2 separate regions of the Homo sapiens genome follow, and region 1 is linked to region 2. The links come from fine-mapping of genetic effects on gene expression. A gene starts in region 2. The other region holds a variant in brackets. All regions are shown on one strand. Distances are from middle to middle. Region 1 overlaps KIAA1671. Region 2 holds the start of CRYBB3 (crystallin beta B3).

Region 1 (5,370 bases), 160 kb after region 2:
GGGAATGTTTTTTAAGTATTTTTGGAGTGGAGCCATGTGAAATCGTCTCTCTCTTAAAACTAAAATAAATAATTTAAATAAATGAAATACTGTTGGGTCTGGGAAACAGTTTCTATAAATGTCTGTTAAGTGAAGAACAGAGAAAAAGAGAGGAAGGGATGGAGAGAGGAAGGGATGGAGAGAGGAAGGAATCACTTTAATGACCATCACACCCTTTTGGGCTGTAAATCAAGAAACCCTCACCCAAGGAACCAACCTTGTTTCTTTTTCTTCTTCTTTTTTTTTCTCTTGAGACAGAGTCTCGCTCTGTTGCCCAAGCTGGAGTGCAGTGGCACGATCTCCGCTCACTACAATCTCCGCTTCCTGGGTTCAAGCAATTCTCCTGCCTCAGCCTCCTAAGTAGCTGGGTCTACAGGCACCCGCCACCAAGCCCGGCTAATTTTTGTATTTTTAGTAGAGATGGAGTTTCACCATGTTGGCCAGGCTGGTCTCAAACTCCTGACCTCAAGTGATCTGCCAGCCTCGGCCTCCCAAAGTGTTGGGATTACAGATGTGAGCCACTGCACCCGGCACAACCCTGTTTCTAACACACACAAAAATTCAAATCCACCCAAATACCCATCAATGAGAGTCTAGGTTAAAATAGATTGGGCTCAGTCACATAATACAATACTTCGCAACCATTAAAAAGAGGAAGGGGAGGCCGGGTGCAGTGGCTCACGCCTGTAATTCTAGCAGTTTGGGAGGCCAAGACAGGTAGACTGCTTGAGGCCAGGAGTTCAAAACCAGCCTGGTTAACATGGTGAAACCCCATCTCTACTAAAAATACAAAAAATTAGCCAGGAATGGTGGTGTGCACCTGTAGTCCCAGCTACTCAGGAGGCTGAGGCAGGAGAATCACTTGAACCCGGGAGGCGGGGGTTGCAGTGAGCCAAGATCCTGCCACTGCACTCCAGCCTGGGCCACAAGAGCAAAACTCCATCTCAAAAAACAAAAGTAAGCCACAAGATTTTCTATAGACTGTTGTAGTTTTCCATAGAAAGCTTATGTATTTACCTATATCTAAGTCTATGCATTTACCTTTATCTATGTCTGTGTCTAGACCAGGGTTCCTCAACCTACAAACTGCAAACACTTGGGGCTGGAGCATTCTTTGCAGTGGGGGCTGTCTTGTGCCTTGTAGGATGTTGGGCAGCATGCTTGGCTTCTACCCATGAGACGCTAATAGCAACCTCTTCCCAGGGTGTGACAACAACAAAATATGTCTCCAGACACTGCCAAATGTGCCCCAGGGGCAAAATTGCCCATAGTTAAAAACCACTAATGGGCCTAGAGGGGTGTTCCCCAGTTTATGCACCACGCTCAATATTTAAAGGAGATTTTCTCTCTACACCATTTTTCTATAGTATTTCAAAATTTTTTTTTTTCTTTGAGACGGAGTCTCTCTCTGTCGCCCAGGCTGGAGTGCAGTGGCGTGATCTTGGCTCACTGAAAGCTCCGCCTCCCGGGTTCACGCCATTCTCCTGCCTCAGCCTCCGGAGTAGCTGGGACTACAGGCGCCCGCCACTGTGCCCGGCTAATTTTTTTGTAGTTTTAGTAGAGACAGGGTTTCACCGTGTTAGCCAGGATGGTCTCAATCTCCTGACCTCGTGATCCACCCGCCTCGGCCTCCCAAAGTGCTGGGATTACAGGCATGAGCCACCGTGCCCAGCCAGTATTTCACATTTTACGCAAGCATTCGCTACTGTTGCAATATGAAAAGCATGACAATTATGCATATATATATGATTGATAAGTGACTGTCAATATAGGAAAGTCCGAAAGGACATAAACAATGTAATGGTGGCTGCCTCTGGGGGAACACTCACCTTTTATTTTCTATACCCCTGTAAGGTTCAAAATTTTAACAACCAACATTTTTTCCTTCTGTATTGGTGTGTTTTTATTTTTTTTTTTAAGATCAAAGAACCAAAGATCTTTTGGCAGGAGACAAGAGAGAAACGGGAAGCTGGTCCAAGGCTTCCCAATCCCGTGGTGAGAAAACAGATCCCCTGACAACCAGCACTGCTGGGGCCTGCGTGCTCCAGGCAGGCATCCAAGGCTGGGCTGCGGGACAGAGCTGAGCCCAGGATCCCCCCTCCACAACATCCCGACTCCCCCACCACC[A/G]GCGGGCCCTGAGCAAGGTGCTGGCAAACATAAGTGTCGCATTTCCTTGGCCTCTTCCTTCTTCCACTGTTACCACAACATCAGCCTGCAGGTAGGGACAGATGAAACCCTTCTCAGGAAGCACACGGGGATGGCCCAAGTTCGGTGCTTTATTTCAATTCAGTCTAATAACAGTGCTTTGGGGCAGGAATCCCTGTTAACTCTGGCATGGCAACTGAGGCCAGGAGAGGCCAAGAGGCTGCTTTACACACAGCAGGCAAGTAGCAGCGTGGAGATTCAGATGCCAAGTCTGCGTGATCCTGCACATGGTGGTTGGAGAGCTTGGCCTCTTGGGAACAGACATGGGTTCAAAGCCTGACTCCATCACTTACCCACTCTTAACTGAAGGCAAATCCTCACCGCATGATCATTACTGACTGTATCCTAGAGTTTCCTTTCTGCAGCATCCACTTCCAGACTGGCCACCTAGTCCCTTTTACAGACAAGAAAACTCGGGTGCAGGGAGGTGAAAGGTTTTGCCCTGTATCACTCAGCTGCAAGTGGCAAAGGAAGAATCTGTGGCCTGATTTGCTGATGCCACATCACACAGGGCGGTGCTAAGTCCATTTCCACATGTCCCCCACAACATTCTACGCTCTTCCCACCTCCAAACCTTTGTCCATGCTGTGCCCTGCTGAGAATGCCCTCACCTCCCCTCATCAGCCCACCCAAAAGCATGGCCAACCCTCAAGCTTGGGCTGAGACCACCGACTCCTCCAGGACACCTTGGGCCACCTCTCCAGTGCCTCCCTCTGCACCCCATCACTCCCCAGTCTTGGATCACAATGGCCCATCTCCCCACAGAGATCAGAAGCTTCAAAGGGTGGTCCTTATGCCTCAGATTTCTTCCCCACCTTCGTGGTTCTTCACCAGAATGGTCTCCTAGAATATGGCCCAGTTGGGTAATTAAGGCCAGATTTGGGTTCAAATACCAGTTTTGTTACTTACTGCTGTGTGACCTGGGACAAGTTATTTCACCTCTCTGAGCCTCTGTTTTTTTCCCCCCATCTGTACAGGAAGATGATCACACAGCAGTAGGTAGTGTCAGCACTCTGCCCAACACTCAGGTATATGCCAAAGATCAAGAGAAGGGGCCCTCTGCCAACACCCTAGAGCCTCACTGATAGATATTTGGGTAGATTTGAATTTGTGTGTGTGTGTTAAAAACAAAGTGGCTTATTTGGGTGAGGGTTTCTTCACAGCTATTCTGCTTATGTACCCCCAAAAGGGTGTGCTTGTAATTAAAGTGATCCCTTCCTCCTTTCCTCCCCACCCCCCACCCTGCCATCCATTCTTCTCTTTCTCTCTGTTCTTCACTGAACAAAGGAAGCCAGATTTTCTTTCTTCTGCTGTGCATGGTGCCAGCCAGGATGGAAAAGTCTGAATGTTCATGACCCCACAAACAGCCTCAGGCAAGGACAGAGGGATTGGAAAATACATACTCCAGGTCCCTTGACCCCTGGACATGACAACTTCAGAGGTGTTCCATGCTGCCTCCCGGGGTCCCCAGTGAGATGTGCCTCTGTGGCCAACCATGGCCCCTGTAGCACCTGCCTCACTTCTTCTCTCCCCTACTGGTTCTTCCTGGGATCACCCCCTTAAAAAGTGCTTACAGGCCGGGCGCAGTGGCTCGCGCCTGTAATCCCAGCACTTTGGGAGGTCAAGGTGGGCGGATCACGAGGTCAGGAGTTCAAGACCGGCCTGGCCAAAATAGTGAAACCCCGTCTCTACTAAAAAAAAAAAATACAAAAAATTAGCCGGGTATGATGGCGGGCTCCTGTAATCCCAGCTACTTGGGAGGCTGAGGCAGGAGAATCGCTTAAACCCAGGAGGCGAAGGTTGCAGTGAGCCAAGATCACACCATTGTATTCCAGCCCAGGTGACAGTGTGAGACTCCGTCTCAAAAAAAAAAAAAAAAAAAAACAAGGGACTGCTGGAACCCAAAACCATGGTGATCCCTCTTTTGAGGCTCACGTAAGATCACTTGTTCACTCATTCAACAAATACTTCTTGAACATTCACAGTATGTCAAGCATGATGCTGGATTCTGGGGACATAATAATGAACAGGATACAACAGGCTATTATACAGCAGGAGCACAATAAAGCTACCATTGATATCTATCATTATCGTCATTGTAGGACAGAAGTGTAAAACAGGTGGCCGGCGCGCTGCATGGGGCTAGCAGACAAGTCTTGTTTGGGCTGAACAGCATTTTTAAAAATAAGTCCTCCTCATTTCCTAATGGGAGGATTACACATAAAAATCTAGATTTTCAGATTCTCTTGATAAATGAGGTTTGCCATCTCAAGGCCAGCATTCCTGCCTGTGAAGAACCAGCTGGGCCAGGCATGGTGGCACACGCCTGTCATCCCAGCACTTTGGGAGGCCGAGGCAGGAGGATCACTTGAGCCCAGGAGTTTGAGACCAGCCTGGGCAACATGGCAAAACCCTGTCTCTACAAAAAATAAAAAATTAGCCAAGCATGGTGGCGCATGCCTGTCATCCCAGCTATTTGGGAGGCTGAGGCGGGAGGATGGCTTGAGCCCAGGAGATTATGGCTGCAGTGAGCCATGATCATGCCACTGCACTCCAGCCTGGGCAACTAAGCAAGACTCTTTGTTTCAAACAAACAAATAAACAAACAAAGAACCAGGTGGGACCAAGCAGCAGTTGTCCAGTTCAGATAGGGCATGAGCTCTCCATTTGCCACAATCCATACCCCTCCCTGGAGCCTCATACCCAGCCTGACTCCACTCATTTATGTACCCAAAGTGGGCCACACAAAATCTGAGTTTCGGCCCCCTAGACTAGATGTTTAAACCATGTTTGACAAAATTAAAAAGTGTCTCGGTACTTACCTTGTGACTGTCTCCAGTCCCTGACTCCCACCAACAGGGTCCCATTTTGGCCTCCAAATTCTCTCCAGTAAGGCTGGGCCTCCCTTTGGGCTGCTCTCGCCTCCTCTCTCTGGCTTCATGCATGATGGACAGGCCCTCTCGGATGTTGGCAGGGGGCCCCTTCTCTGAGTAGGCCCTCTTGATATCCAGCGGCACCCGTCCACAGTCACGTGGGTGGTCACCCCACTGGGCCACACTGTCCTCCTCTCCCCGCCCGGTGGATTTCCTTGGGGTCCCTTTCTTCTGGTCAGTGGGGGGCGATTTG
Region 2 (5,370 bases):
ATTAAACTAGTGATTGCAACTCTGATGTCCAGCAGGAGCCAGGTGGGGAGTCCAGCGGACTGAAATAACCCGAGAGGTCGGTGGGGAAATGAAGCTGCTTCTGGCGATGAGGGAATGAGGTCCCAGTTCCAATTTTTTCAAGAGAGGTCAGAAATCTGTATTTTCCTTAATAGGAAATTTCCCCCTTAAAAAAATGAAAACACCTGTTTGCAGTCTCGGGGAAGACCTCTGCCTGCCCCAAGCCTAGGAAGAGAAGGGCTGCAAAGGCAGACCAAGGTTTTGCCTCTCTCACCCACCTGGAAACACAAACTGACTTTGTAGAAGATCCCCAGGGAACATCTGTTCTAGTCATTTTACAGAAGGGATCAAAGAAGCTCAGAAAGGGTAAGATACTTGCCTCGGGCTGCACAGCAAGTTAAGAGGAGGCACTGGGATTCGACCCATCCTTAGACTCTGTCTGGAATAGTTTCCCAAAAAGACCCCGGAGATGGTTTGGAAAGGGCAGAGCCAACACATTCAAACCTTCTCTCAGATTTCTAGTGTGCCTCCCTCTGCTAGCTGGCTTCACTCATGTCTTTCAGCCTTTACACCAACTCTGGGCACAATATCTGGGCACCATCCTCATTTCAAACATGGGGCTGTTGAGGCCCAGAGAGCCTCCAAACCCTGTGCCCTTTTCCCCAGAGTGGGCAAGACACCAGGCTGAGGTCAGACAGGAGAGTCAGAGCTCAGAGCCGTTTCCAGAAACCCCCGGGCCTCTCTGATCCATTGGTGCAGGCAGGATGTGGGTGACCATTTCTGTTTTGCAGACGAGGGAAGATGCAGCAAAGTCATGAAGCAAGTTTCTAACGGGAGGGTGGCAGTGAGAGGACCCACCCGGAGCGTTTTGTCCTGGCCTGGGTGGTTGGAAGGATGGCTCTTCCTTCCTGCAGAGGTGCTGCTTGGCTGGGAAGATGACCCTGAGGCCCAGGAGTAGCCTGGGCCCTCTGACCCCCTCCCTGCCCAGTACCTTGTAGCTGCCCCCAAGGTCTCCATGGCTCTTGCCAGCTGCAGCCTGTTCGGGTGCTCCGTGCTGTTCCGCCATCTCCCCAGGAACACCTCTGGCTTCAAACCAAAAGAAAATGGTTCACTGGATCCACCCGGGAGAAGCCAGGTGTTGATGTGACTGGAGTCCAGGATGAGCTACAGAGCCTTGCTGCCCATGGGGCGTGGCTGTAACTTATGATCGACATTCAGTCATTCAGCAAACATCCATTGAGCACCTGCCATGGGCCACGTGGACTGAGACAGTGGGATCAGGAGCCCCATTGTACAGAGGGGAACTCTGAGGCTCAGCAAAGTGAGGCCACTTCCTCAAGCACACAGTGAGGAAGTGGCCTGGGTCGGGCCTGGCTCCAAAGCCCGTGCCCTTTTCCCCTGATCCAGATGCTCCCCGAAACCCAGGTTTCTCAGAGCTCTCTGCAGATGTCCCACCCCCAGAACCTGGCTAAAGGGTGGGCTTCAGGGAGTTTCCTCTACAGGGGTCTCTCCCACCTCCGTACTCCAGGAACTCTTTTGTTCACTGGTTACTTTATTCAACAAATATTCCATGAGCACCTACACAGTGCCAGGCTCTGGGCTGGGTGACCAGGAGGGACAGGAGACCCCATATGTCGGGAGGTGGACAGACAGACCTCTAGAGAAAAGGCTTGTAAGACCAGGTCGTTGGACACCTGCTCCAGGTCAGTTTCCCTGCGTTCGGTTACTCATTCCTTAAGCATTTATTGAACACGACTGTGTACCAGCCACTTCAAGACCCAGACACCGACAGTTCTTCATTGCTACAGGGACAGTGACACGCAATACAGGCCCCTGCCGCAGTCACATGGAAGGATTCTCATCATTGTTGCACCCATGGACACACACAGGACTGTTCTGTTTGTCAGCACACACACATAGGTGCACACACTCGCAAAAGTTTCTATGGTCACTATCAGTTATATTTCACCCATGGGCTCACAGGACAGCTTCTTTCTCTCTCTCTCTCTCTCTCCTCACACACACACATCCCTGCCCATTTCAGACATCCACAGTGGTAAACAAGGCACCTACATCTACACCCCACATCCAACTGTTACCCACCCACGGCTCCCAGCACGGCCACCCCAGCATGCACAGCTGCACAGCCCACATACTCTGGATGTGGGCCTAACCATGCACAGCCTGCGGGCTGTCGGTTCTGTCTCTCCTAGCCTCAGCAGGAAACAGGGCTTGGTCCAGCTCACAGGGGACTCTCGGGGGACTTGGCAGGTACCATGTGTGCCCACTCCCCTCCCTCAGAGGAGCTGTTTTGGAAGGTCCCCTGCCCTAAGCACATGTCCAGGGGCTTGGACCCTGGCCACTGCAGACAAGGGTCCCTCGTTCCACCCCCAGCTGGGCTGTCAGGGTCCTCTCACTGGGACCTGACCCTTAAGGGAGGCGCTGTTTTTCTTTGCAGGCGGTCAGCCATGCGCGTCCCACAGAAACTACAAAAGGTCCGGGCCTGCCAGGGTGGCTTTTGCCTCCCCACCCCCAACCCATCCCAGAATGAACCTGTTGCTGTAGCCTCGGGAAGAACAGAGGAGCCACGGCCGTCTGCAGACTCGCCTGTCTTCGCAAGGGGCATGCTATTTATGAGCACTTTCTGACAGCCCAGCACATCCCAGCCTGCTGAGGCAGCACCCTGTCCACCCAATTCCATCCAGGCCACTTCACTCCAATAGCGGGTCCACGGAGGCCCCCAGTGCCTGTCTCCTCAGCCACCGTCTCTGATGACTTCCTGGGGACAGATGAACCTCACTGGCTTTGTGGGAAGCCCAGCAGCGCCAGGCAAGGGGCACGGTGTGCAGCTCTCCCGTGTCTCCCCACAACCACCAACTCCCTTTCTTTGGTTTCTTGGGGTCACCATTTCCTATTGAGTCACACGCAACCTTTGGAAAAATTCTAGTTCTTAAAGTGAGGGACCCCAGACACTCTCCAGTTTCCATGTGCCATGTGGCCTAAGTTTTAAGTCAGATCACGCTAACCATACTCTCCAACTTGGGCGCAAATCCACCCAACCGTTTCCATAGGATGCCGTCACAGAACTCACAGACTGACTTTCTTCATGTAGAAGACACGCACGAATAATAGCTACCATTTCTTGAACACCTACTACACGCAAGGCATTGTGCCAGCTTCACAAGCATTGTATGGAATTCTCATCCAGCCATCCTTAGGGGAGGAATTCTGATTCCACTTTATACATGGAGAAACTGAGTTCAGAGAGGTGAACCCATTTACTCAGAATCACACAGCAGAGAGAAGGGGCTGGCCTGCTCCAGGACCTGGGATCTTAGCCTCAATAGAAATAAAAGTGACCATCACAGTCAACTTATTTATGACCAAAGAAAAAAGGTAGATCCAGGTATTTTTATTTTATTTTTTAGAGATAGGTTGTTGCTACATTGCCCAGGCTGGACTCAAACTCCTGGGCTCAAGCAATCCTTTCTCCTCAGTGTCCTGAATAACCGGAACTACAGGCACGTGCCACTGCACCCAGCTTCCAGGAATTTTTTAAGTGTCTAACAAAGTATAATTTTGCCTGTAATCAATATCTAATAAGTGATTATTTTATGAATAAAATTATATTGGAGCAAAGGAGTGAGTTAACAAGGTTTTCTTTTGTTGTTGTTGGTATTTGTTTTTGGCTAAAATCCTCAAGTCAGCATAAAACCCAGTTACAGGCCGGGCGCGGTGGCTCACGCCTGTAATCCCAACACTCTGGGAGGCCGAGGCAGGCGGATCACGAAGTCAGGAGCTCGAGACCATCCTGGCTAACACGGTGAAACCCTGTCTCTACTAAAAACACAAAAAATTAGCCAGGTGTGGTGGCGGGTGCCTGTAGTCCCAGCTACATGGGAGGCTGAGGCAGGAGAATGGTGTGAACCCAGGAGGCAGAGCTTGCAGTGAGCTGAGATCGCACCACTGCACTCCAGCCTGGGCAACAGAGCAAGACTCCGTCTCAAAAAACAAACAAACAAACAAAAACACAGTTACCCTGTACCCCCTAGAGGGAGATGGTGGTGAGATGCTGTGGATGACAGCTGGACTCTGAGTCAGGCAGATGTGTGTGACCTTGGACGAGTTCCTGAAGGTCTCAGAGCTACTGTCTCCTCACCATAAATGGAGAACCTTCTCTCCACTTGGGCCATTTTGGGAGGTCATGCAAGCAAAGCACTGCGCACAGTATCTGTTATTTTTGACTTTTATTCCCAGCATCCTGCCTACTCTGGACAGTTCAAGCCAAGGGGCTACTTCCTGCTGAAGGTCACAGAAAGCAGTCGGTTTGGACCCCCTGAGTTGGGATGTAGTTGCCACCAGCTGGGACAGAAGGAGGAAGGCAGAGGTGGGGATGGCGTGGCTCCCCCTCCCATCACATCTTTGAGGACCTTGCAGACCTACTGCACGCTCAGCACTTTGATGTACCACATCTCCCCAATCTAGACTTTTCAACCTTGACACTACTGCCATTTGGGGTCGGGTCATTCTTTGTGGTGGGGTCGGGGTGGGAGCTGTCCTGTGCACTGCAGGATGCTGAGCAGCATCCCTGGCCTCTACTCACTTCCTGGAGCATCTTCTCTCCTTCTTGTGATAACCAATAATGCCTCCTTTCATTACCAGACATGCTCTGGAGGGCACAATCCACCCAGCTGAGAACCACCACCTTAAACTGTTACCTGCAAAAATGTCCTGATCACCACTCCCATTGTATAGCTAAGGAGAACCAATGTTTAAAAGAAATCCCACAGCCAGAGGGTGGCAGGAGGAGGACTCAACCCCTTGTCAGTCTGAATGGAAATCCTGCCTTGTTTCCATGGCCTCCCATTCTGCATGGACACCCTCTCCCAGGACCCCAGCTCTGCCCTCTCGCTGGCTGGCCCACAGCTCAGCACAGGACAGACTGACTCAGCCAGCCCCAGTCAGGGCCTGCATGCATGGGAGACTCTATTCATTCACACATGGACGCACCGACTTCTCCAATGCAACTTGCACCAAAGCTTTATTTGCTATTTTCATAGTCTGAATGCAACATCTTTGTACATGCAAAGGTCATCTTGTTTTATTGCAGTCGACCAGATTTCCAACTGCTCTTCTGTGCATATGAAACTTCTTTACAGTTACAAAATATAAAAGCACTTGTAGACGTCCAATACTCTGTGAGGTCTGGTAAGCCCCATTTGTTTTTACATTAAAAATATAAGTTTTTCTAGATGACTTCTCAGTCACACGGTTAGAGATTCTTTCTGGGACTGGATAAAGTGCCTCTCGTCTGCCTTCCGTTCAGAACTCCTAGAGCTTGTGAATTCCTAA

Evidence for each region.
Region 1: its variant is fine-mapped to the expression of CRYBB3 in thyroid (GTEx, PIP above 0.99).

What each region holds. Positions count from the first base shown.
Region 1 is chr22:25,041,222-25,046,591 of GRCh38, reverse strand. It overlaps KIAA1671, which reads right to left. Exons shown (of 13, transcript NM_001145206.2): 5 at 5,067-5,370. Among named protein-coding and RNA genes, the nearest start is that of KIAA1671-AS1, 69 kb to the left of the region's middle. The variant A/G (reference allele first, on the strand shown) is at 2,167.
Region 2 is chr22:25,197,111-25,202,480 of GRCh38, reverse strand. CRYBB3 (crystallin beta B3) reads right to left here and starts at 2,623. Exons shown (of 6, transcript NM_004076.5): 1 at 2,572-2,623; 2 at 1,010-1,104. The coding sequence starts at 1,084. It overlaps KIAA1671, which reads right to left. Exons shown (of 13, transcript NM_001145206.2): 13 at 5,033-5,370.